Linked DNA regions of Homo sapiens. The protein of the gene in region 1 purifies or fractionates together with the protein of each later gene. This does not show direct contact. Each region holds a gene or a part of one and is shown on either strand. Other genes may lie near its edges. The genes, in order: BRD1, ZZEF1, LIMA1, RNH1, MAIP1, TOR1AIP2 and SCML1.

Region 1 (3,091 bases):
GAGAAGGGGTGCAAACTGCACCCGCCATTAGCTGGGCTTCTCGGTGGTAGCCCTGAGTGCTCCACGGCCTGTCCCCACCTGGCTCCTGCACCCGCTTCCTTTCTGCGTGGGCTTCCTTTCTGCGTGGGCGGTGAGTGATCCTGGGGGCCACCAGCTGCTCGTGGTGGGGAGGGGCCTGCCGGGCGGGGCTGGCTGTGGGAAGGAGAGCCACGACAGATAGGAAGCACCTGCCAGATGCAGGACAGCAACTATCTAAGGAAGACTTGATTTCCAAGTTTCTATGGAGATGTTACAAACGGTGTAGGCTTAAAAAAAGCATTTAAAACTTTTATGTAACTGAAGTTTTAAAATAAAAATATGATCAGGTGAAATAACAAATAATGCCATCCCATGACAGTTTTCAAGATAAAGGCGTGTCCCCGCCCCCTGCAGCCAGCACCCCACCCGTCCTTGGGGCTCACCTAGCCGTCTAGGGCTGTAGGAATAAAATGGCCACACCGTCCAAATCTTGACTTTATTTTTAATATAAAAAATGCAAATTTGGAAACCCACCCTACTTTCCCCAACATAATGCTTTACCTCTTAAAAATAAAAATAAAGTACTAATTCTATATACATCACAGGTACCATACAAAAATGTATCCAAAGTTTCTATTGCTACCAAAGTGTTCTAAATTAAAACAAGTTACAGAAAGCCCCTCATTGTAAACAAAAGATTACAAGTTATAAAATCAAAGTACACACAGGCCAGAGTCATTTATACAATGCAATGCATTCTGCTCCCAAGCCAAGTTGAATTTTTATGTGCCTGTATAAAAATGCATATCAATATACCTTTGCAAATGTATTTTTCATTATAAAGCAAATGAATACACTTTCTACAATAAATAATCCGCTGGGAGGCACACCTGCGGGGTTTGAGGTGGGCGGGACGACGGGAGCGGGGACACACCCACCGGCGGTCACGGGCAGCGGAGTGTTTTTGGTGATCTGCAAGTGATGTACACAGCATAACTTTATTCTCCCCTCTTTCCACAAAGTACCATTCAAAATAATGTCATTTTCTTTCTTAAAATACACATTTGTCATTGTAAATTTACATCCCGTCTTATTAAATAAGTGGTACTCTGTGTAAAGAGCATGATTTACAAAATTATTAAACATTCAAAAGTCTTTAAGAAAAAGCTACATATCAAAGAAAGTGACGCCAGCAGCACGGCCTGGGGACGTGCGACAGACGCACTGGGCTGCCCGGACGTGCCCACCCCACTCACAGCGCCCAGACGGAGATGGGTTCCTAGAAAACTTGGAAATAAAACCTCCCCCCTCCCCGGGGAAAAAGAATTAAAGAGCTATAACTAAAAATCAGAATAAGTTAAGTTTTGAACAATATACAAACATGTACAGCTTATCAACACTATGGACAAGACCCGCGCTGGCGGCCGGGCCGTCAGTCAATGTCACTGAGGTCGCTGGTCGGCTCCCCGTGGACGCGGCTCAGGTGGTTCATGGCGCGGTCAAAAGCGATCCGCACGGCCTTCCGGATGCTGGAATTCCTCCCTTCCATCATCTTTAACTTGTCTATAGTTTCGTCAATACCAAGGGGAACCATTTTGGACTTAGGAAGCCACTGCCTTTTTAAAAGGAAAAACAAGCGGAAAATCATTGCTTGCACATGGTATTTCAGCAGGCTCCATGTAATCATCTAACAAATTCACTGCCCTCCGATAGAAAGGGGCCCTGCTCAGCACCACCAAGACAGCTGGGCCCCGTGCAGGGACAGGCCCGAGGCCAGGAGTGCACCCCTCCCTTCCCCTCCCCGACTTGGGGATACGGGGAGCTAAGTAAGGCATAAAAACCATCACCTCCTCCTCCACCTCCAAAACGTTTCCCAGTGCCTGCTTAGTGACAAGACATGCACACACCAAGCCCAGAGTCAGGGTGGGCCCTGGAGCAGAGGCCGGTGGTTGGGGAGACCCCATCAAAGGGGCCCTCGGATGGACAAGGTGTGGGCCTCGCTCAAGGCCTGACAAGAAGCAGTGGCCACGTGGCCAAAGAGGCAGAGGTCGAGGCAAGGAAGAGAAAGACGGTAGGGATGCCTGTGCTGCCAGTCCTGCTCCAGGCACACCATAGGCAGGTGGCCCCGAGCCCCTGCGCCAGGTCCCAAGTGCAGCCAGCTCCACGGGGAACCAGGAAGCACCTGCCCGGGCCACGTGCGCAGGGCACAGCCGGGGCCACAGCTCCTCCCAGAGGCATGTGCTGCCAGCGTGTCCTGCACAGAGGGATCTTGGGGTCTAAACCCTGGCACATGAGGGTCCCAGACGCTCTGGGGAAAAGCAGCTCAGGGCACAGGGGGAGCCTCCTGTGATGGGGTGGATGTCTGAGCAGAGCTGGATGATGCTGGGACAGAAGGCTCTAAGAACAGGGCCAGAGGCCAGGCCCGGGCAGGGGCCATGTCCTGCAGTACAGGGGTCCGGGAGCACAGCAGAGGGACCCCCAACACTGGAGCGGACACATGGGTAAGGAGTAGGGAAGAGACAGTCCAGACCAATGGGGCTCAGGCGAGAGGGAGAGGAAGCCATCGGGCAGAGACAGACCCGGTGCTCAGTGCCCGTCCCACAGTCCCGGCGAGGGGGCTGGGCAGTGCCCTTCTCCACCAGGCAAACAGCGGAGCACTCACCTCCGACTTTAGCTGTGCCAGGGCCCAGCAGACAAAGACGCTGCTCACCACAGGGACACTCAGGTCACCGAGCCCACGGCCCCCAACCACCCCAGCCGGTCCCCGGAGTCTAAGGCCTCTCAACTCACCAACTTCTCTTATTATCAAAAAAGAGAACGAGGAACAGCTTCTCATCAGACTTGGTCTGCATGTGCTCCCCAATCTTCAGCACGTCCAGGGGTGGGGCCGGGATGGTGACGCCGTTGTGGTGGCCAGGCACACGGGGCATCTTGGGGTCGATGATCTGCACGAGAAGGACCCGCTGAGGTCATTGTGAGGCTCACACCCATAAACAACCCCACCTGTCACTGGCACCCCCCCCCGCCTCCCCACCCCAGCTGTGTGAGCCTCCTCAGACCACCCCCACGCCCC
Region 2 (3,500 bases), on another chromosome or scaffold:
GAACTAGAACTTGCTCACAAGCAGGCTGGCTCGAGGCCCAGTTCCCAAGCTCAGTCTGAAGAACAGCAGAATGAGCAGACTCATAACACGGCAAACCCGCTGATGCCATTACAGGCTAATTACACACCCGTCCAGGTTGCTATGAAAGGGGTCCCTTTTCGGGGGCAGAGAGGGGGCAGCTTGCAGGCAATGAGTACCAAGGTCCCAGCTGGTTCAGACTGTAGGCTAGGTGCTAAAGGATCATTCCCAAAACGTGCCATGCCCTCTCACTCCAGTATATCTGCATATGCTGTGCCTTTCATACGGCAAATCCCTTCCTTCCTTTGCCAGGCGAATTCTTCCAGCCTCTCAAGCCTTGTTGTGATGAAGCCTTTCTCAAACTCCATGCTGCTGGTAACTGCTTCTCTGTGGTCCCTGAAACTGGAGTGGGCTTAGGATGGAGCAGGGAGCAGACAGGAGGAGAAGGAGAGCAAAGGACAAAATTCCCACATACATGGGAAACGGGACCATAAAGTGGCTGCTTAAAGAGCACTGGGAGACAAGGGTAGAAGGTATAAGAGTGTAAAGGCTGCTCCACCATTCAGATGTGATTCTGAAGGCAATGGGGAGCCACTGAAGTTTCTAAAGCAAGGCAGTACCATGGTGAGGTGGTATTTTGGAAATCAGGGAGAGACAAAAGAGCTGTGGCCCTTCCTCCATAGCTCTCCTAGGTCATGAATTTCTCCAAAGAAACCAATACCATTAACTCCCCCATAGCAAAACACACAAAGCCAAAGTAAGCAAAAATAATCTCCACTCGGCCAGGTGCGATGGCTCATGCCTGTAATCCCAGCACTTTGGGAGGCCGAGGTGGGCGGATCACAAGGTCAGGAGATCGAGACCATCCTGGCTAACACGGTGAAACCCCGTCTCTTACTAAAAAACACAAAAAATTAGCCGGGCGTGGTGGCAGGCGCCTGTAGTCCCAGCTACTCAGGAGGCTGAGGCAGGAGAATGGTGTGAACCTGGGAGGCGGAGCTTGCAGTGAGCCAAGATTGTGCCACTGCACTCCAGCCTGGGCAACAGAGACTCTGTCTCAAAATAATAATAATAATAATCTCCACTCACCAAGGATCTTTCCTGTACTGCCTCATCACCATCCACAGCCAGCCATCCCTTACCAAAGACCTCCTGTGTACAATGGTAGTGCAGGCAGGTGGCTGGCGGCCTCACAGCCTAGTTGCACAGCAAGGCCAGACAGTATGCTCTAAGTGCCAAAGGATCTGTACAGAACAGGTAACAGGAGCCTCAGCTGTAGGGCTGAAAACACCATTATGGAGACACTATCTGAATCATGCCACAGAAGATGTGGTGCTGACCAGGTGACAGTGCCAAGGTGGGGAATCTTCAAGAACTGATAGCAAGGTCCATACACAGGACAAAGGAGGTGTCCCACTAGCCAGCACAGGGCTCATGCGGGGGTAGGGGGAAGATAAATTAGGTAAGGGAGTTAGGAACAAAGCAGGCATCCCACTAGCTAGCACAGGGCTAGTGCAGGTGGGGGAAAGGTAAATTAGCTGAGAGAGTTAGGCTGATGTGTGGGCTTCAACCGATTCAGACAAATACATATTTGGTCCCTTGGGTAGTGGAGAGCTGAGGGCTCCCGGCTGAAGGCAAGAAAAGCTGGCAGCCTGCTGTTGCTTTATGGTGCACACACACAGCTCTTACAGTCAATAGTCTTAAAAGGGCAGATAATCACATCTGCAGATTCCTACGGCACAGTTCCTGGGCTCAAAGCCATTCTAAATTAGTTGATTAATACTTTTCACATAATAATATGAAGACGAGCACAGGGCTTTTCTACAAACTTCCTGTAAACCCGAAAGTGACTAAGAACCTTTTAAAGTTTTCACAAAAATCATATTTAACCGTTTCCTTCAATGTCAAGAAATATTAAAAGGTTACAGACTGAATATAAAATATGAGGTTTGAGTGTGTGTGGACTACAACTTCTACAGTCTCCCAAAGCACCTGGGCACTGGCAACCACCCAGGACTGTGCTAAGACGATGAACAGAGATGAATCAAAAAGGCCCTTCCCTTAGAGCTTACCACCCCACGAATTTCACAAAGTAGGCACCAAAACTATGTGGCAAATTAATAAAACACAACCTATTCATATGAAATTTCACTTTAGGGCCATCTGTTATCCTGTACTCAGCACGTTTTTCTGCCCTAGAAGATTTTCTAGAATCATACTCTAAGAGCATAAATATCTAATCTATAACCTCTGATGTGAAATAAGAACTTAATTTTAATTCTATTTCCCCTCTACATGGCAGTTAATTAAATATTGCTCCTTGTGAGCAAACTGAGAGAGTCCCTTCTCCCTGGACCACACCTACCATGAGAAAAGGTGTGTTGTACTATAAAATGATAATGTTTCAGACTTTGGTCCATGGTCCAACTCCAAGAACTTCTTTATAACACCTCCTCAAGTAACTGAGGTCACAGGAATGTGAAAGCAAGACAGCTGCGTGGACACCAATGGCAGCTAAGTTAGGAAGCCAAAGAAGAAACATGTAACACTTGGAAACTCTCAGCATTATAATAAACCATGCGCACCTTCTCCCTGGACCACACCTACCATGAGAAAAGGTGTGTTGTACTATAAAATGATAATGTTTCAGACTTTGGTCCATGGTCCAACTCCAAGAACTTCTTTATAACACCTCCTCAAATAACTGAGGTCACAGGAATGTGAAAGCAAGACAGCTGCGTGGACACCAATGGCAGCGTAAGTTGGGAAGCCAAAGAAGAAACATGTAACACTTGGAAACTCTCAGCATTATAATAAACCATGCGCACCCGTGGCTATCTGTTTTACCATGTTAGCTCTTATAAAAACGAATGACGGAAACAACTTGTCATTTTAGTTGCTACTATAAAGACATTACTTCACAAGCCCTTCATCTTGCAGTAAAATACAGCAGTATATTCTCAAAAGCTTAGACGTAGATTAACAACGCAGAATTAACTGTGTAAGTATGCACAAAAGTATATACTTATTCAAGTCTAAGGATAGACATTCTTAAAGCACAGAATCAAATGCATGGCTAAATCTTATCTTCTTTGGCTAGTCCTAACTTACTAGTTCTTACAGACAGAGCAGCCATCACAAGATTATCATGAGAGACGGTGGCCACTGTGAGATTATCACAATCAGGTTTTTAAACCTTGGCTAAGCCTCACTCACAGAACTGTATGACCTAGCTATGTGAATCAAAGACTGCCAAATATAACTCAATGTTTTCTCTCCCCTTCCTCAATAATTAAGCCCTGAGTTTTAGCTGAATATATGGCCACGGAAAAAGAATCTTTCCCAGCCTGTCCTGCAGGTAACTGCGGCCATGTGACTGAATTTTGGCCTGTGGGATGTAAGCTATGCCCGTAAGAGAGTGGGCATGGCTTCTTCCTTCTCCTTCCCTTTTCCCTTTCTTGCTTGTTGGAATGTGGAAAATG
Region 3 (3,500 bases), on another chromosome or scaffold:
GCTTTACTGAAATGTCTTTCCTAATTCCCAAAGCCAAATGCTCTTCCTCTCCTTGAAATTTATCCCCTTTAGAATCTGTCTTGTGTTTACTTGGCACTTGAATCAAACTTCTTTCTTCTGTGTGTGATAACATTTTCTCCTAATCCCTGCACTCCCCCCCCCGACCCCTTCCCCCATCCCCTGCTCCTAACATTTTTTATGTGGGTCGTGACTTGTCTAAGCCATTCTTTGTAATCCAGACGTAGCTCCACCTATCCTTGGTGGCTGCTACATTTAGAGCAGCCACACAGTTTGGGAAGGGAATATCAAGAGAGCCTCTTGGCTTTAAAGAGTCAGCTGATAGAATTGTAGCAGGTTTAGTGCTCCATGAGAATTGACTGACCAGCTAAGGGAGCCCTTAGACAAAGTAAATTCTAGGGTCCATCTCAAGACAGTGCTAACTCATCGCTGCCCATGCTAAAGTTGTCTTTTTGTTTTTCCTAGAAGTTTCAGGCACCTGCAAGAGAGACCTGCGTGGAATGTCAGAAGACAGTCTATCCAATGGAGCGTCTCTTGGCCAACCAGCAGGTGTTTCACATCAGCTGCTTCCGTTGCTCCTATTGCAACAACAAACTCAGGTAAGTCAGCCCAAAACAAGCCATCTGTCTATAACTGGAACTCTAGAGGGAGTCTTTGGCTTTTAGAGCACTGGTGCTAAAAGCTACTGTGCTAATGATATTCTGTTGAAGGCTCTTGAATAAAGTAAAAAGCATCATTTAGTGACAAGTCTTTCATACCAAATAATGATGGTGTTTGGAACTTCTTGGTGTATTGATATGTTAATTTACATGTTAGGACCGAAGCTTAAATAATATGAGTTGCAGGTAAACCCCCCTGTGACCTAATTTAATAGAATGTTTTCCCTTGGTATCACAGAATCACAAAGTTAAGAAATCTCAAGAGGTTACTTGTTTAAGCCCTTACTTGTCTTAACCACTGTATAAATGATAATAATGGCAATAATAATAGCCCCTGGAGAGCATGTCTTTTTCTCTATGTTGCCTCACTTTATTTCTGAGAAAATAGTTGTTACATATCATTTCTTCCAAGTAACTCAAAGTGCAAATATAAATGTGACAAATCGGGGAAACATTCCAAATTAACTCATTTTAATCATAGAGTCTTACAGAAGGAAGTAACCAAGATGTCACTTTCTCCAGCTTTCCTTTCTGAGCAATCCTTCCTAAAATACTCTTGAAAGATGTTTTGGCATCTGTGTGACATTTCTAGCTATTAGATAGCTCTAGCTAGACAGCTTCTCCAAACATGCAGCCAAAGTGTACCTCAGTCACTTCCACTCATTAGTTCTTCTGCTGCCCACTGTGTTAATTTTTTTCTCCAAAGCACCTTTTTTTTTTTTTTTTTTTTTGGATACAGAGTCTCACTCTGTTGCCCAGGGTGGAGTGCAGTGGCGTGATCTCAGCTCACTGCAACCTCTACCTCCTGAGTTCAAGCGATTCTCCTGCCTCAGCCTCCCAAGTAGCTGGGACTACAGGCGCCCGCCACCACACCCAGCTAATTTTTTGTATTTTTAGTAGAGAAGGGGTTTCACCATGTTAGCCAGGATGGTCTTGATCTCCTGACCTCGTGATCCACCCGCCTCGGCCTCCCAAAGTGCTGAGATTATAGGTGTGAGCCACTGTGCCTGGCTTAAAGCACCTTATTTCTTTTGTGGAAGTGCTGCCGTTTTATACCCCCTTTAACATTTGTCACTCTTCAGAATGGTTCGTAACTTAAGGGAAAAAACTTTAAAAAGATAAAACTTATCATCCTGCAAGAGACACCAAATCTCCTAAAGGCTTGTCTAGGACTGACATTAGGGAAAAACTACCTCCTGTCAACTCCTCACCATTCTTCTATTAATCAAGCTTATATCTAGGTGTGGATATAAGGATCACACCTGTAATCCTAGCATTTTGGGAGTGCCCAGGTAGGAGGATCACTTGATGCCAGAAGTTCAAGACTAGCCTGGGTAACATAGAGAGACCCCATCTGGTTTTTCTTTTTGAGATGGAGTCTCACTCTGTTGCCCAGGCTGGAGTGCAGTGGTGTGATCCTGGCTCACTGCAACCTTTGTCTCCCAGGTTCAAGCGATTCTCATGCCTCAGTCTCCTGAGTAGCTGGGATTACAGGCGGGCACCACCACGCCCAGCTAATTTCTTTCTTTTTTTTTTTTTTTCCGGAGATGGAGTCTTGCTCTGTCGCCCAGGCTGGAGTGCAGTGGGATGATGTCAGCTCACTGCAACCTCCACCTCCCAGGTTCAAGCAATTCTCCTGCCTCAGCCTCCCGAGTGGTTGGGACTACAGGCGTGTGCAACATGCCTGGCTAATTTTTGTATTTTTCATAGAGATGAGGTTTCACCATGTTAGCCACGCTGGTCTTGAACTCCTGACCTCAGTCAGTCTGCCCTCCTCGGCCTCCCAAAGTGCTGGGATTACAGGTGTGAGCAACCACGCCTGGCCAATTTTTGTATTTCTTAGTAGAGATGGGGTTTCACCATGTTGGTCAGGCTGGTCTCAAACTTCTGACCTCAAGTGATCTGCCCACCTCGGCCTCCCAAAGTGCTGGGACTGCACCTGGCCGGAGATCCCATCTCTATGAAAAATTTGGGGAGGCTGAGACTGAGGCTGGAGGATCACTTGAGCCCTGGAGGTCAAGGCTGCAGTGAGCTATGATCATACCATTGCACTCCAGCCTGGGTGACAGAGCAAGACCTCCACTCAAAAAAAAAAACAACAAAAAATGGCTGGGTGCAGTTGCTCATGCCTGTAATCCCAGCACTTTGGGAGGCCGAGGTGGGCAGATCACGAGGTCAGGAGATTGAGACCATCCTGGCTAACAAGGTGAAACCCCGTCTCTACTAAAAATACAAAATATTAGTCAGGTGTGGTGGCGAGTGCCTGTAGTCCCAGCTACTCGGGAGGCTGAGGCAGGAGAATGGCGTGAACCTGGGAGGCGGAGCTTGCAGTGAGCTGAGATCGTGTCACTGCACTCCAGCCTGGGTGACAGAGCGAGACTCTGTCTCAAAAAAAAACAAAAATGGCTGGGCGTGGTGGCTCACGCCTGTAATCCCAGCCCTTTGGGAGGCCGAGGCGGGCAGATCACGAGGTCAAGAGATCGAGACTATCCTGGCCAACATGGTGAAACCCCGTCTCTACTAAAAATACAAAAATTTGCCGTGCATGGTGGCACACACCTGTAGTCCCAACTACTCAGGAGGCTGAGGTAGGAGAATCGCTTGAACCCAGGAGGCAGAGGTTGCAGTGAGCTGAGATCATGCCACTGCACTCCAGCCTGGCGACAGAGCGAGACTCTAACAAAACAAAACAATACAAAAATTAGCCAGGCGTGGTGGCGCACTCCTGTAATCCCAGCTACTCAGGAGGCTGAGGCAGGAGAATTGCTTAAACTTGGGAGGCGGAGGTTGCAGTGAGCCAAGATTGTGCAACTGCACTCCAGC
Region 4 (3,500 bases), on another chromosome or scaffold:
CAGTGGGCCCAGAAGACAGCAAGGCAAGTCACACAAGACATTTCAGAAATGAAACAAAAAGGAGGAACTGTTCCATGAAAGTTTTGTTTAAGATGCTCGCACGTGGCCAGGCGCGGTGGCTCACGCCTGTAATCCCAGCACTTTGGGAGGCCGAGGCAGGCAGATCACCTGAGGTCGGGAGTTCAAGACCAACCTGACCAACATGGAGAAACCCCGTCTTTACTAAAAATACAAAAGTAGCCGGGCGTGGTGGCGCATGCCCATAATCCCAGCTACTCGGGAGGCTGAGGCAGGAGGATCACTTGAGCCCAGGAGGTTGAGGCCGCATAAGCCATGAGGGAGCCACTCCAGCCTGGGTGACAGAGCAATGCCCTGTCTCTAAAAATAAAAAGAATTTAAAGTATCTCTCGAAGGCACTGATCAGTCACAGGAGGAAAGGCAGTGGCGTCACAGTGGAGAGGGTGGCAGACGGCGCCTGTGACAGGACGCTCCTGGCAGGCCCCACGGCATCTCCCTGCATTCCTGCCAAAACTGTAGGACTTCAACCACAAGAAACCACCAGACAAGCCCCAACAGAGGACGTCCTGCAGGAGCCTGGCCAGACCCTCAGACCACCAAGAACCCAGAGAGACGAGGGGACAGTCACAGACGGGAGAGGGCTAAGGAGACAGAGGGCTGAGGGCCACGCAATCCTGGACCAGTGAGGAAGACGAAAAGGGCAGGGCGGAAAAGCAGACCCTGCCTGGAGGTGCTGGGCCAGAGCTAGCGTCCGCAGGTACACAGGACCACCTCACCAGGGAGCCCCGTCCGGTCCTCGTAACTCCTCCGCAAACCTGACACTACTTGAAATCACCAGGTAAAAAGAGAAAAGATGCGGCCCACCCAGGCACTCGTGTCCTGCTTGTGAAGCTGCTGGGTTTGTGAGGACCTCGAGGGCCGAGGACTCCCAGCCCCCAGCTTGGCAGGGACAAGCAGCGCCCCATGGAGGCTCACGGAGGGGACCCAAGCTGTGTCCTGCCCTCGTGTCTCCAAGGGAGGGAGAGGAGCTGAGACACCGGAGCCAGAGACCCACTGGCCAGTGGCCGCCCACCTCGGCCCGCCCACCTCAGCCCATGCTGCATGAGCCTGGAATGGGTTTTACATTCCTAAATTGTCAAAAAGAAACACAAGAATCACATCTCATGCACGTGGTAGCTGCACAGAATTCATACTTCATGTCCACAAACAAGGCGTTCCAGAGCAATGCACCCTTCAGAGGGAGCCGCCACCCGCCAGCCTGCCCCACCAGCACCCCAAGGCCACCCCGAGAGCAAGCGTACCTGACCACTTGGCACTGCTGGAGCAGAGGGAGGAGCTCGGCCCATCTAGCGTCGCTCAGCTCCTCACACTGGATGTCCAGGCTCTGGATGTCCAGGCTCATGGTGGAGGTGAAGAGTGGCCTGGGTGGGAGGCAGAGGGAAGAGGACGTCTTGGCCGAATCCCCTCACAGTTTCACAGGCCGGAGATTCTGCAAACAGGACCCACAGGGCTGATGTTTCAGGAGGAGCCGCAGCCTCTCCCTGGGCAAACACTTCCTCTTCAGCACCCTCCCCACCTTTGTCTCTGGAGCAGACATCAGGGGTGGGGCAGGGGGCAGGGACCAGCACCCACCCCCAGAAAGGCCACCATGGGCAGCAGAGCTTGGGTAATGCAGATGCCAGCCCATCTCCTGGCTATCACCACCCAGCCTCTGTGGGCACCTCCTCCTGCCCCACAGAGGGCGGGACAGCAGCAGCCCGGGAAGCCCCTGCCTCTCATTTGCTTGGGCAAGGACAGGGTAGGGTGGGGTGGTCTGTGAGCCTGGAGGCCCCAGCAGGGGAGCAAGGGGGTCTGTGGGCTTGACCTGTGTCTCACCCTCAGGACAGGCAGACTGTGCGGGCCAGGCAGGCTGCCCACAAAGCCAGAGACCTCCCAGGATGCCAGGATCCTGGACCCGGCCACAGTGTCCGAAGCAAGACAGAGCAGGGGGGCGGCCACTTGGGGTGTCAGCTTCCATGGCCCCCTTCTGGGGTTGGGGACTCTGCACCAGGCTACAGCACATCCCCTGCCCCACGGCACACTAGCCCAGAGGCTGGGCTACCAGGCAAGCTGGGTGGGTCAGCCTGGGATGGGCACAGCTGCTACACCCTGAAGCCTCCCCAGGCACAGGCCCTGAATATGGAAGGAGGTTCCTGAGGCCCTGAGAGCACAGCTCAGGTACCCGCCAGGGGCCTGGGGAAAGTGGTCAGGCAGAGACAGCCACCCCAAACCTTGGTTGGTGGATACATTCCCTGAGCACCTGCCAAGCACTGGCCTGGGGACTACAGCAGGGCAGGAACCTGGAGAGGAGGCTTGGATGGCCAGGAAGGCTCCCTGGAAGCAGCAGCACTGATGCCACAATGCGGGGAGGGGTGGGTGGGGTGGGGAGAGGGCTCTCATCCAGAAGCCCCAGAAAGTTGGCAGGATCCACTTGGGGAAATGATGCAACCCCAGCTGCCCTTCAGAAAGACGGCCAACAGGACCGCTTGAGAGGCTCCTGGTGCCCTGACACCCCCAGCTTCCTGAGTCTGTGTGCCTGGCACTCCTCTCCCCGGGGCTGCTTCAGAGGCGGCTGGTCCACTCTGCATGAGTGGAGGCAAGAGGCCCCTGGTACCAACTGGGAGGAAAGACGCAAGGCTGGGCTCGGGTCCACACGCCTGGGCGCCCGGCCTGCAAGGACAGTGGCAAAGGGTGGTGACATCCCACGGCCCCACATGGAGGAACTGAATCCAACCGACCCGAAGCACGTGAGCAAAACCGACCAGGGTGTGGTCACCCAAATTCTGACTCCAGAATCTAGTCATCAGGAGGCACTGTGGGCGGGAGGGCGGGTGGAAGGAGAGCCTCAGGGGGCTGCCCAGGGTGCACACGCTCCCCAAATCCAGCCTGACACTCCTGTGTCCTCTGCAGCCAGATGAAAGGTGGCCCCAGGGTGTCCTCCTCCTGGGAAAGCTTGGTGGGAGCTCAGGGTGGCCAGTGCTCCCGTGACCATCTGCAACTAGCGCTGCGGGAGTAGCCCCGTCCCTACCCCTCAGGCTTGGCCAGACCCTGTTGTATCCCAGAAAGGCCCTTCTGAATCTCTGTGGGTCACGGATCCCACTGAGGACCCCATGAAAATGCGGGAGTAAACGCCCTTCTCTGTGACTGGAGAAGTCCCTGGCTCCCTACACAGCCAAAGCTAAAAGCACATTCAGGAACCCACTACCACCAGCTGGCAGCCTGCTTTGGTTGAGGCAGGGATCTGAACAGAGGCCCTAACGGTCCCTTATCCGGAGACCAGACTTTCTCAACCTTACGGAGGGAGGTCTCCGCAGCACCCAAGGCCTGGGCCCCACCCTGGGGAGCCACATGGGAGGGGCCGTCTGGAGGCCAATTCAGGTCCTTATGTTCCGACGTGACGGGGGCGCGGGGCCACCCTCTAGGGAGACACGGGCCACGCTCAG
Region 5 (3,018 bases), on another chromosome or scaffold:
TGTTCTTATCCCTGTCAAAATTCTTCAACTTGTCAGTTTACTTGTCCTTTTCCCATGTAGACTGAAAGTTCCCTGAAGACAGGTAGGATCTTAACTCACAGTTTGCTTTCTCATTGCTAGCAGTGAGGAGAATTGCAGTTGGGTTTTTCCCTCCTTGAAAATGGAATTTCATACTTCAAAGTTAGGATCTACTGTTTTAGACCACATAAACTAATGACCTTCTCTCCCACTTTCCCAAACCTACATTATCTCCCATACTGAGATTCAGACTACAGCCCAGATTTCCAGACTCCCAATGCAGTCTCGACTGTTCTCCTTTCCAACTGCTATCTATGCATGATTAAGAGGTAGGTCATATAACTGCCAAATGATTGTTTACTTCATCATTTTAAAAAGAAATATAAAGGAGGATTTTTATTGAGACATCTAGATTGTACACCACACACTATCATTTCCCGGTCCTGAGAGTGGATCCAGAATTAAAGGTCAAGTCACTTACTGCTATATATGTGGGAAGGCCATATATGAAAAGTCAACCAAGAGTCATGCCTTGATAAATTAATATTTGATGTTGTTTATCACTATTACCATAAAATAGTCTGTATTACACTTAGCCATTTAAATATGAACATGGTATGGTATTTTGAAATAATAATCCCCACACTTCCCTTAATATTTTTTTCAAGGCTTTTGCTCATGTATCCAAGTTGCTGTCACAGTGTAAATTTGATCTGTTGGAAGAACTTGTGGCCAAAGAGGTAAAGTATATTTTACATTTTGCTTTAAAAATAAATGCTATTCTCTTGCAATAGAATGATGCACATTTTCCTTATTTATGCTTAAAAATAGTGTGTGTGCCAGCATCCAAAGTAGAGTCTGTGTATCTGTTCTTATGGGTACTTTGGGTCATATAAAAGCATGGAATAACTCCTGCCACTTAAGGCATAATGAAGTAATCATGATGTCTTCCAATTGCTCTTATATGGAATGTTCTGTTAGGAATTACCTACTTGAATAATGAGATACATTTCAGCCTTGCTTTTGAGGATGAGTAAATACGGTAGTAAATTTAAAAATAGGTTTGGAAAAATGTATTCCATGATAAAGATCACTTTTTGAAAGTTTTCAAAAATTGTATCAGTGAACTAATGGCTTGCTTTTTTCAAACTTAGGTGCTACATGCATTGAAAGAAAAGGTTACTTCACTACCTGACAACCATAAAAATGCCCTTGCTGCTAACATAGATGAAATTGTATTTACATCAACAGGAGACATCTCCATTTACTATGATGAGAAAGGTAATACCAGAGCATAGTCAACTTGAAATGATCCATAATTGTCCAGATAAGCTAAACTAGTGGATAATCACAAAATAGTAGAGTTTTGTCAGGACAAGTATTTATAGAACTTCAAAGAAAATGTTATATCCATTCTTTAAAGACCTACTTCTGAAAGAGTTGAGATATGGTCATCATTTCTTAAGCCTTTCTATCTAGAACTTTTTTCTGCTACTATTTTATTCACAGTAGAGAACATCATCACTTACATTGATGAAAATAGTTTGAGTGGCTCCCACGTCTCAAATAGAAAATATTTATGTTTCAGATTTCCTAACTTGAAGGAAACAATTGAGTATTTTAAAGCTGCACTTTATATGGAAGGAATGAGGGGTAAAAGAAAATCAAATTAGATATTGTCAGCTAAAGACAATTTGAAAAGGTTAACTGCAGAACTCCCAAATTGGATCTATTTGAGAATAATGAAAAAAGTTGGTAGGAAATTTAGTGGTTATCTGGTTCTTCTTGTCTGAGGCATACATTTTCCCTATAGCATTCCTGATAATTCACTGTTTGTTCCTGATACATACAAAGTTGGCCCTCTGTATCTGGGGGTTTCGCATCCACAGATTTAACCAATCTAGGGTAAAAAATATTAAAAAAAAATAGTTGCATCTGTACTTGAACATGTGCAGTTTTTTTCTTGTCATTATTCCTCAATAATACAGTATAACAACTATTTACATTAGCATTTACATTGTGTTAGGTATTATAAATAATCTAGAGATGATTTAAAGTATACTGGAGGATGTGTGTTATGCAAATACTACACCATTTTATATAAAGGACTTGAGCATCTGTGGATTTTGGTATCCACAGGGGGGTCCTGGAACCAATCCTCCGTGGATTTTGAGGGATGACTCTATTTGCATATGTATTATGTGCCAGCCACACAGGAAATGGAGCCTCTGCTTATACACTTCCCAAGATGGAAGAAAAAGACTCTTAGTGATGATAAAATTTTTCATGCACACATTATTTTGAAATATTTGTAAAGATATTTTTAGTGATAAATATTTTCCGCTTCCCTAATATTTCAAATTGCATCTCAGCACCATGGTCACTAACTAATTTTTGCATCAGGAGTTTGTCAGAATCACCAGGCACAGTAAGGTGAATTGGGTAGAATAGGAAGCCTTTACTCTTTCTGGCAGTTGAAGTTAAGATAGTTACTGAGCAGCAAAAAATATTTTTTTTCTCCTCATTTTTGGTTTGACAACAGGTATCTGTCAGGAGATTATTATAATCTTAGAAAATGCCTGGCCAGATGTGGTGGCTCACACTTGTAATCCTAGCATTTTGGGAGGCTGAGGCAGGTGGATCACTTGAGCTCAAGAGTTCAAGACCAGCCTGGGCAACATGGCAAGACCCAGTCTCTACTGAAAATATGAAAAAATAGCCGGGCATGGTGGTGCGTGCCTGTGGTCCCATCTACTTAGGAGGCTGAGGTGGGAGGATCGCTTGAGCCTGGGAGGCGGAAGTTGCAGTGAGCCGATACTGCGCCACTGCACCCCAGCCCGGGTGACAGAGTGAGACTCTGTGTCAAAAAAAGAGAAAGAAAAAGAAAATGCCACTAATTGAAAATAATCCATGTAGTATACTTAGTAAAGTACGTGCTCAGTTAAGTAGTAGTTTTATTACTGAGATACAGAGAAGAGGGCAAGTATGCCATAAACCCTA
Region 6 (3,500 bases), on another chromosome or scaffold:
AAAAGTAACAGTATTTACAGTTTTTTGTTTGTTTCTTTTTTGAGATAGGATCTCTCTCTCTTATCCAGGCTGGAGTGCAGTGGCACAATCACGGCTCACTGCATCCTTGACCTCCCAGTCTCAAGTGATCCTCCTACCTCAGCCTTCCAAGTAGCTGAGACTACAGGCACACACCACCATACCTGACTAATTTTTGTATTTTTTGTATGAACAAGGTCTCGATATGTTGCCTAGGCTGGTCTCTGAACCGTTGGGCTCAAGCAGTCCTCTCCTGCCTGAACCTCCTAAAAGGCTGGGATTATAGGCATGAGCCACCATACCTGACTACAGTATATTTTGAAGTACTGTATAAAGGTACTTTATAACTATTTTTTCTTTTCTTTTTCTTTTGAGACAAGGACTTGCTGTGTTGCCCAGGCTGGAGTATAGTGGCACTATCATGGCTTACTGCAAACTTGAACTCCTGAGCTCAAGCGATCCTCCCACCTCAGTCTCCCAAATAACTGAGACTGCAGGCACACACTGCCACACCCAGCTACTTTATAGTGAACACCAGAGTCATCTGGCAAATCTGTTAAAACATAAATTCCTGTAGGAGGCTCTCAGAGATTCTGGTCTAGTGGGTCTAGGTTGGGGCCTGAATTTGTACTTTTAGCAAGCTCCCAGGTAATGCTAGTGATTCCCAGCTAGTGAGTTTAATATAGTAAGGAAACAAACACTTGTTGTCCATATTGTTGACTTGATAGTTATACCCCAGTAGCACTGAGCATTCAGATCTTGGTTTTTAAAGGAACTAGGACTTTTTAGAGAAGTGGCTGATTTAGTGCGGGAGCAGAGAAAATACAAGATGAGCCTGAAAAATCTTATGGTGCTTGAAAGTAAGGAAATGCTACAAAAAGTTAGGGACCTTGTCGAAAGGACCCAAGAGCCAACTTGAAGGAGTTCCTGGTATCCAGGTTGGAACAATTTGAGCAATAAAATGAATAATGATAGTATTGGACTTTAACCCATAAAATAAAATGAGTTCATACTGATATTGCTGAGTGAATAAATAAGTAGGGGAGAAGGGACAACTCTAACAGAAGAATTCCATTTAATAAACATAGAAGGAAAGAAGGAAATACAAAACCACCATTAGGGAAACAGTACCATAGTAGTTGTTGCAGACAAAATCCAGTTAGAGGAAAATCAGAATATTTACATAGTCTCAAAGTATCTCTCCCAGGATAATTATTAACTACAAAGAAAAAATAGTAATCCGACAGTGGAGGTACTATGTTAACAAAGTGATCAAGGTTAACATCACCAGTAATGAGACAAGGACATCATGAACCCAAAGAGGCAGTGAGAAGGACACAGCGGCATTTCTGTGACGTTTGTTATTCTTGCCAAAAATGCATAATCTTTTTATCTTTCTAATCATGATAAAATATTGTAAAACTCTAAACTGAGGAACATTCTACAAAATAACTGGCCAGGTCAGGTGCAGAGGCTCATGTCTGTAATCCCAGCATTTTGGGAAGCCAAGGCAAGAGGATCGCTTGAGCCCAGGAGTTCGAGACCAGCCTAGGCAACATAGCAAGACCACGTGTCTATTTTTAAAAACAAAAAACACCGAACCCAAAATAACTGACCAGTATTCTTCAAAAGTGTCAAGGTCACAAAGACAAGAAAGGGTCACAAATGACAGGTAAAGACTGAGGAACTGTCATAGACTAGACACTAAGGAAAAATAACAACTAAAAGAAATCGTGAAATCTGAATATGGCCTCTAGTTAATTGAATTGTGCCAATGTTGATTTCTTGTTTTCGATAACTATGCTTTAATTATGTAAGATGCTAGATGAAGGATATAATGGAACTGTGTGCTATTTTTGCAACTTTTCTGTAAGTCTAAAATTAGTTCAAAATAAAAAGTTTAATAAAAATATGTTGACTTGAAGTAGATACTAAAAGTGATTAGGGAAGTTGAACTAAACCTGGCAGTCAGTTGTGCCACCCACTGTCAGAAATCTTAGCAAACTCTTAGATCCTTCGTGCATAGCTTAATACCTCTACGTGGTCAACCGAAACTAGAGATACAAGTCAAAGGAGTTGGGAGGGAGTATGAAAAAGGGTAAGTAGGAAAGGAAGGCTTTCTGCACTCAGAAAATATCTGTAGAATTTGATCTGCGCCAGGCATTCAATTCCTGTGTAAAAAACAATTCCCTAAGGAAGTAGAGTGCTTTTTGTTCCGAGGCTAGTACTTTTTCAAACTTCTTTCAAAAATCTAGAATAAGTCACCAGTTAGTGAAAATACAGAGAAACGAAAAATTGTGAAAATAATAATGCTGGGATATTATGACAGTGGATATGGTACAGAGGAGTGGGCAAGACTTAGAAATTTAGTTTTAGACAGACAATAAATAGCTAGCACAAGTTATAGAAATACCTAAGCTTGGCACCAGATCTGACTGTTGAAAGTTGTGTATTAGCCTTAAAGGTTTGGCTGCTGGTGTTTTGAAGTGAAATTGTAGACAGAATTTGGACCATGGGCTTTTGGAGCATTAGAGCAACATAGATAGAAATGTACCAGTAGGTTTCCAAACCAGTTGTTCTCCTTTATGGCCATGCCCCTCAAAAAGTATGGTAGCAATGCATACACACCTGTTTCGTTTGTCAGTTCCTGGGGCAAGAGAGAGGAGAACATTCTGCAGCTATTTTCTAACCTTGGGTAATATTTTTTATTTGGCTTCTCTGTTCTAAAGAGGGAACAGTGTGTGTACTAAATAGTACTGAAGATTGTCATCCATATGCCTTCTCTCAGTGATCTCAAGATTGCCAAATTAAAAGTAGTTTCTCACAAAACAAGTTGACTTTTTTCCAGGAGCATTTTATTTTCAACAAAAAATTATTTTAGATTATATGAATTCAAAAAGAAGAATGATTCCTTTTTTCATACTCCTTAATCTCTCATTATCTAAGGTAGTTGTGAAATAGGAAACTCTTAAGATTTCACTTTGTGTATGAAACTTATTGGAGAAACCATCTCATACAAAAAAAGTTATGATTATTGATTAGCCTTGACTGTAGTACCCCCTAGAAGAAAATATTTAAAATGGGAATTCAAGAGAGTTTAAAGCATTTATACTTTTTCTATGTGCCTATCTTGATTTTATGTATCATATGAGGAATTGGTTGAGGCTGAAGTCTAAGGGATAAATTGCCTGGAAAAGTCATTCCAATCCAGACTCAGTCTGAAACTTAATTATTATGCTACCACAAAAAAGAATAAGGGAATTTTTATCTATTGAAGGCAGATTTGAACTTACTAACATACATTCAGGAAATAGCAAAGAACAAGATAGACTATTTAGAGAAGTTAATTAAAAAGTTGCCATGGTTAGTTGATGTAAATTTCAGTGGATTAAATAGAACTACATTTTCTATTTTGGTGTGAAAGTACTATTTTCTTTTCTAAATTTTCTTTTAATAAAGTTTCAGGAAGGATCTTAAATTTA
Region 7 (3,500 bases), on another chromosome or scaffold:
GCATAGCTAAAACTTTCTGAAGTATGAGCAGTTAAACTGTCTCATATCTCAGTTATTTTTTAAACATATAAACCTTTGACCAAAATCTCTATTACTATGCAATTAAACATGAAAGAGGAATTAAATAAAATGTTAGTTACTTCTGACCTAGTTCAGCAGAAAATAATCTTGTTTTCTTCACAATGCACATTAGCACTTAAGCCACGAGAGACAGGAATCTAAAAAGTAAAGCGATACTAAAAATAACCTTATTGAATACGTGGGGAAGATTTGATAAAAGTACTAATTTGGTTCTTAAAGATAATGGGGTTGTTATTGAGATTCATTGATTAAAAGGAACAAATTTAAGCAATTATAAAACTGTAAATTTGGAGAATTTCCATTATATTTTGCTAGTAAAATTAACCTAATCTAGATAGATTAAGAGAGAAATTCCTTGAAATACTTGAAGAGAGTCATAGGTTAGGTTAGATTAACCTAATTTTACCCAAGTGACAGATCTTTTGCCATATTTGCCTGTGGCCAAAGAAGACTTGGTTTACTTAGTCTGTTTTGTGATCTTTGAAACTTTAATGTAACTTCTGAACCAGCTTTTGCTATTTAGGGGAGGTCAGATGGGACACTCTTGTGTAGGCATCCCCACATCATCTTTATATAGGCTTTCACTAGATTTTACAGTTGGAGTCTTGACTCCTTGCTAGGAACATCACAGAAGGTTCCAACAAAGAGAGCATTCCTCCTTACCTAACATCTCTTCTTTCAGGATAATGATCAGGTCGAGTGTGATTTGTCTTTTTTTTCTTTTCCCCCTCTCCATTGAAGTTACAAGGTCACCAGTTGAAAATGACGGTTACATAGAGGAAGGAAGCATCACTAAGCACCCTTCAACCTGGTCGGTGGAAGCAGTGGTCCTATTTCTAAAACAAACAGATCCTCTTGCATTATGCCCTCTTGTCGACCTCTTCAGAAGCCATGTAATGTATCTTTTGATCCTGTTTTCCTGCTGTAATGCCTTTGAATGACCTCTGTGCAGGTCTTTCAGTTGGATACTGTGTGAATGGTGGGAGAACCCTATTAGCTGATTTTTCCATATATGAGAAAGCTTATTTTGCCCAAGGTTAGCCTTAAATGGTAGGCTAATGGTCTGTTCTTTAAATGGGTGTAGAAGTGCCTAAAATACAAACTGCCTCAGCTTCTTAAGACATGATGATTCAGCATGGCCACTCAGGTGTACCTCCCCTTTGTAATGACAGATACAAAGATCCTCCCCCTATCTGCTCCCAGCTGGGCACCAGGACCACGAGGAGGAGGGGGTAACCACAAGCTATAACAGGGTGGCCTTCGTTTTATATAACCAGTGATTCAACAACTGATTCCATTTGCCTCGATTATTGATGATTTGTAATGCTAATACCCTCTTGCTATTATCAGACCATTTACAAAGTAATATCCTAGGCCGAAGTTTTGTAAGTTCTAGTTTCTTTAATTTTGAGTTTTACTTAGTAGAAAAAGTATAGAAGGTGCCAAACAAAGGTTGTACTATAAGGGATTTCAGACCTTTTCAGATAGTGTTAAATGAGTAAATAAAATTTTATTTTTTAACTGGAACATATAAAACCAAATCATATGCTTCAGCAGCATAAGTTGATCAATTAAGATAAGGAATTTTAGGAGAATGCTTTGTGACTATGTTTTATTTATTCAGATATTTTCACAGTGTGTCCTAACAAAATTAGTAGCCACATATCTGATTTTTAATATAGTAAGAAAATTGGTGATTAGTTTTAGCATCTAATTAGTTTCAGACAACTAATTGGCATTCATCATAAAGACAACATTGTATAGACATTTACAGTTTGCACTGATGTTGACGTACTCATCTTCCCAGCCCTTCTCAGAAAGTTAATGAACATCTGAAATTCATTTTTACTATTCATAGTCTTTACTATTTTGTCATGGATGTGTAGTATTTTATTCAACATACAGTATATATTTAAAATTAAGTTTGACACAGTTTATTTTTTAAGATATTATGTTAAATTTCCTTTTTCTCAGAACTTGAAATGAGTTTATACATTACCAAACGGTGCTTCACTGTACAAGTTATATTTTTAATAGTTTTCATAAAGTAGACGCATATTCAGAGAATATACATCTGCAATGAGCTGCTCTCTAGTTTGCTTTACATGTTCTCATAAAGAACTAACCATTCTGATGAAAATATGGAAGCATTATTAATTATCGTTAAGTTTCTTCTCTCCATAGGAAATTGACGGGAAGGCTCTGCTCCTACTCACGAGTGACGTGTTGCTGAAGCACTTGGGGGTGAAGCTGGGAACGGCTGTGAAGCTATGCTACTACATTGACCGACTTAAACAAGGAAAATGCTTTGAAAATTGAAAAAATCCTTGTGCAAATTTAGATTGGGCCAACTTCTAGAGGCACCAATGCCTTCTTAGTGTGGAATCATTTTTCTGCCCTTTAGTCGTTTTTGTTTTGTAGAAAGTATCTCTCAAAATATATTATAGCTAGAATTGTAGAACTATGTTATAGTCCAGTCTACTTCTTTAAAAACCATTTAAACTGCTAGATAGTATTAGAATAGTCCAATAGAAAATTCATTCTTTATAGGTCTTTAAAAATTACTTTTATTATATTGTTTACAAATATATTTCATGCAAGAAACAGAAAAAAAAAAAAACCCTTTGATTCTGGTTCATCTCGATACAGAGAACCAAAACAGCTAAGAGAGGTATTATCAGGGTTGACAACTCCTATGATTGAATCTATGGGAATTATTCCTCAGAAGAGAATTTAAAGGTGTACCCATATATATCTCTTTCTGGAGTATTTTATCTGTCTGATGTTGCAGTATTCTACAAGTTTCCAGAAAGAGAATAGCCATATAAATTATTTTCCTTTCTGCTATTATTTCTCTATATGTTTTATTTATTCAGATTTAGAGTAAAAAATAAGCATATAAACTTTTATTATGTGCTCTTAACAGTTTTAAGATAAACTATAGGATAGATAGAATGGTTATTTTATGCAAGAAATATTGTACCGCAAGGGTGGTTTGGATGAAGTCTGACTACTTTTTTTCAAACAAACTATTATATTAAAACTGTCATATTTTGGCTAAGTTTGGACCTATAACTACACTTTCATTGTTTGCATCTCTCTATGAAGATACGTCTGTCCAAACTTTTAAAAGGCATAACTGTATTTTATGTGTTTATTCTTTATATAGATAGTATTTTATATTTTATTCTCACCCGAAGTATTCACACAATCTTTTTAAAAAAAATTTGAAATGGCATTTTGTATTGCCACAGAGGTAGGATGAGCCATATATTAGTGAAATGTTTTATTTTGTAAAATATAAATGGATTATTTGCCATCATTAGTACCTCTCAACTTACTTTTTAGAGGACAAGAAACAATCTGTAGATTGGTTTCCATACAGGGAAGTTCTCCGTCCTATGCAATGTTTCTAATTA

The links.
Region 2: the proteins of BRD1 (region 1) and ZZEF1 purify together in Homo sapiens (affinity purification with mass spectrometry; 2 studies listed by BioGRID and IntAct, with this or other methods). This does not show direct contact.
Region 3: the proteins of BRD1 (region 1) and LIMA1 purify together in Homo sapiens (affinity purification with mass spectrometry; one large-scale study listed by BioGRID and IntAct). This does not show direct contact.
Region 4: the proteins of BRD1 (region 1) and RNH1 purify together in Homo sapiens (affinity purification with mass spectrometry, with the first as the bait; one large-scale study listed by BioGRID). This does not show direct contact.
Region 5: the proteins of BRD1 (region 1) and MAIP1 purify together in Homo sapiens (affinity purification with mass spectrometry, with the first as the bait; one large-scale study listed by BioGRID). This does not show direct contact.
Region 6: the proteins of BRD1 (region 1) and TOR1AIP2 purify together in Homo sapiens (affinity purification with mass spectrometry, with the first as the bait; one large-scale study listed by BioGRID). This does not show direct contact.
Region 7: the proteins of BRD1 (region 1) and SCML1 purify together in Homo sapiens (affinity purification with mass spectrometry, with the first as the bait; one large-scale study listed by BioGRID). This does not show direct contact.

The regions. Positions count from the first base shown.
Region 1 is NC_000022.11:49,772,783-49,775,873, forward strand, and holds the end of BRD1 (bromodomain-containing protein 1), read right to left. Parts: intron 2,964-3,091; coding exon 2,809-2,963; intron 1,635-2,808; coding exon 1,451-1,634; 3' UTR 501-1,450; downstream 1-500. UniProt on the Homo sapiens protein: Scaffold subunit of various histone acetyltransferase (HAT) complexes, such as the MOZ/MORF and HBO1 complexes, that acts as a regulator of hematopoiesis.
Region 2 is NC_000017.11:4,136,531-4,140,030, forward strand, and holds part of ZZEF1 (zinc finger ZZ-type and EF-hand domain-containing protein 1), read right to left. Parts: intron 1-3,500. UniProt on the Homo sapiens protein: Histone H3 reader which may act as a transcriptional coactivator for KLF6 and KLF9 transcription factors.
Region 3 is NC_000012.12:50,179,021-50,182,520, reverse strand, and holds part of LIMA1 (LIM domain and actin-binding protein 1), read left to right. Parts: intron 1-483; coding exon 484-617; intron 618-3,500. UniProt on the Homo sapiens protein: Actin-binding protein involved in actin cytoskeleton regulation and dynamics. Increases the number and size of actin stress fibers and inhibits membrane ruffling. Inhibits actin filament depolymerization.
Region 4 is NC_000011.10:500,743-504,242, forward strand, and holds part of RNH1 (ribonuclease inhibitor), read right to left. Parts: intron 1,508-3,500; 5' UTR 1,421-1,507; coding exon 1,320-1,420; intron 1-1,319. UniProt on the Homo sapiens protein: Ribonuclease inhibitor which inhibits RNASE1, RNASE2 and angiogenin (ANG). May play a role in redox homeostasis. Required to inhibit the cytotoxic tRNA ribonuclease activity of ANG in the cytoplasm in absence of stress.
Region 5 is NC_000002.12:199,958,582-199,961,599, forward strand, and holds part of MAIP1 (m-AAA protease-interacting protein 1, mitochondrial isoform 1 precursor), read left to right. Parts: intron 1-686; coding exon 687-758; intron 759-1,172; coding exon 1,173-1,299; intron 1,300-3,018. UniProt on the Homo sapiens protein: Promotes sorting of SMDT1/EMRE in mitochondria by ensuring its maturation.
Region 6 is NC_000001.11:179,871,304-179,874,803, reverse strand, and holds part of TOR1AIP2 (torsin-1A-interacting protein 2), read left to right. Parts: intron 1-3,500. UniProt on the Homo sapiens protein: Required for endoplasmic reticulum integrity. Regulates the distribution of TOR1A between the endoplasmic reticulum and the nuclear envelope as well as induces TOR1A, TOR1B and TOR3A ATPase activity.
Region 7 is NC_000023.11:17,750,993-17,754,492, forward strand, and holds part of SCML1 (sex comb on midleg-like protein 1), read left to right. Parts: intron 1-822; coding exon 823-974; intron 975-2,265; coding exon 2,266-2,400; 3' UTR 2,401-3,500. UniProt on the Homo sapiens protein: Putative Polycomb group (PcG) protein. PcG proteins act by forming multiprotein complexes, which are required to maintain the transcriptionally repressive state of homeotic genes throughout development.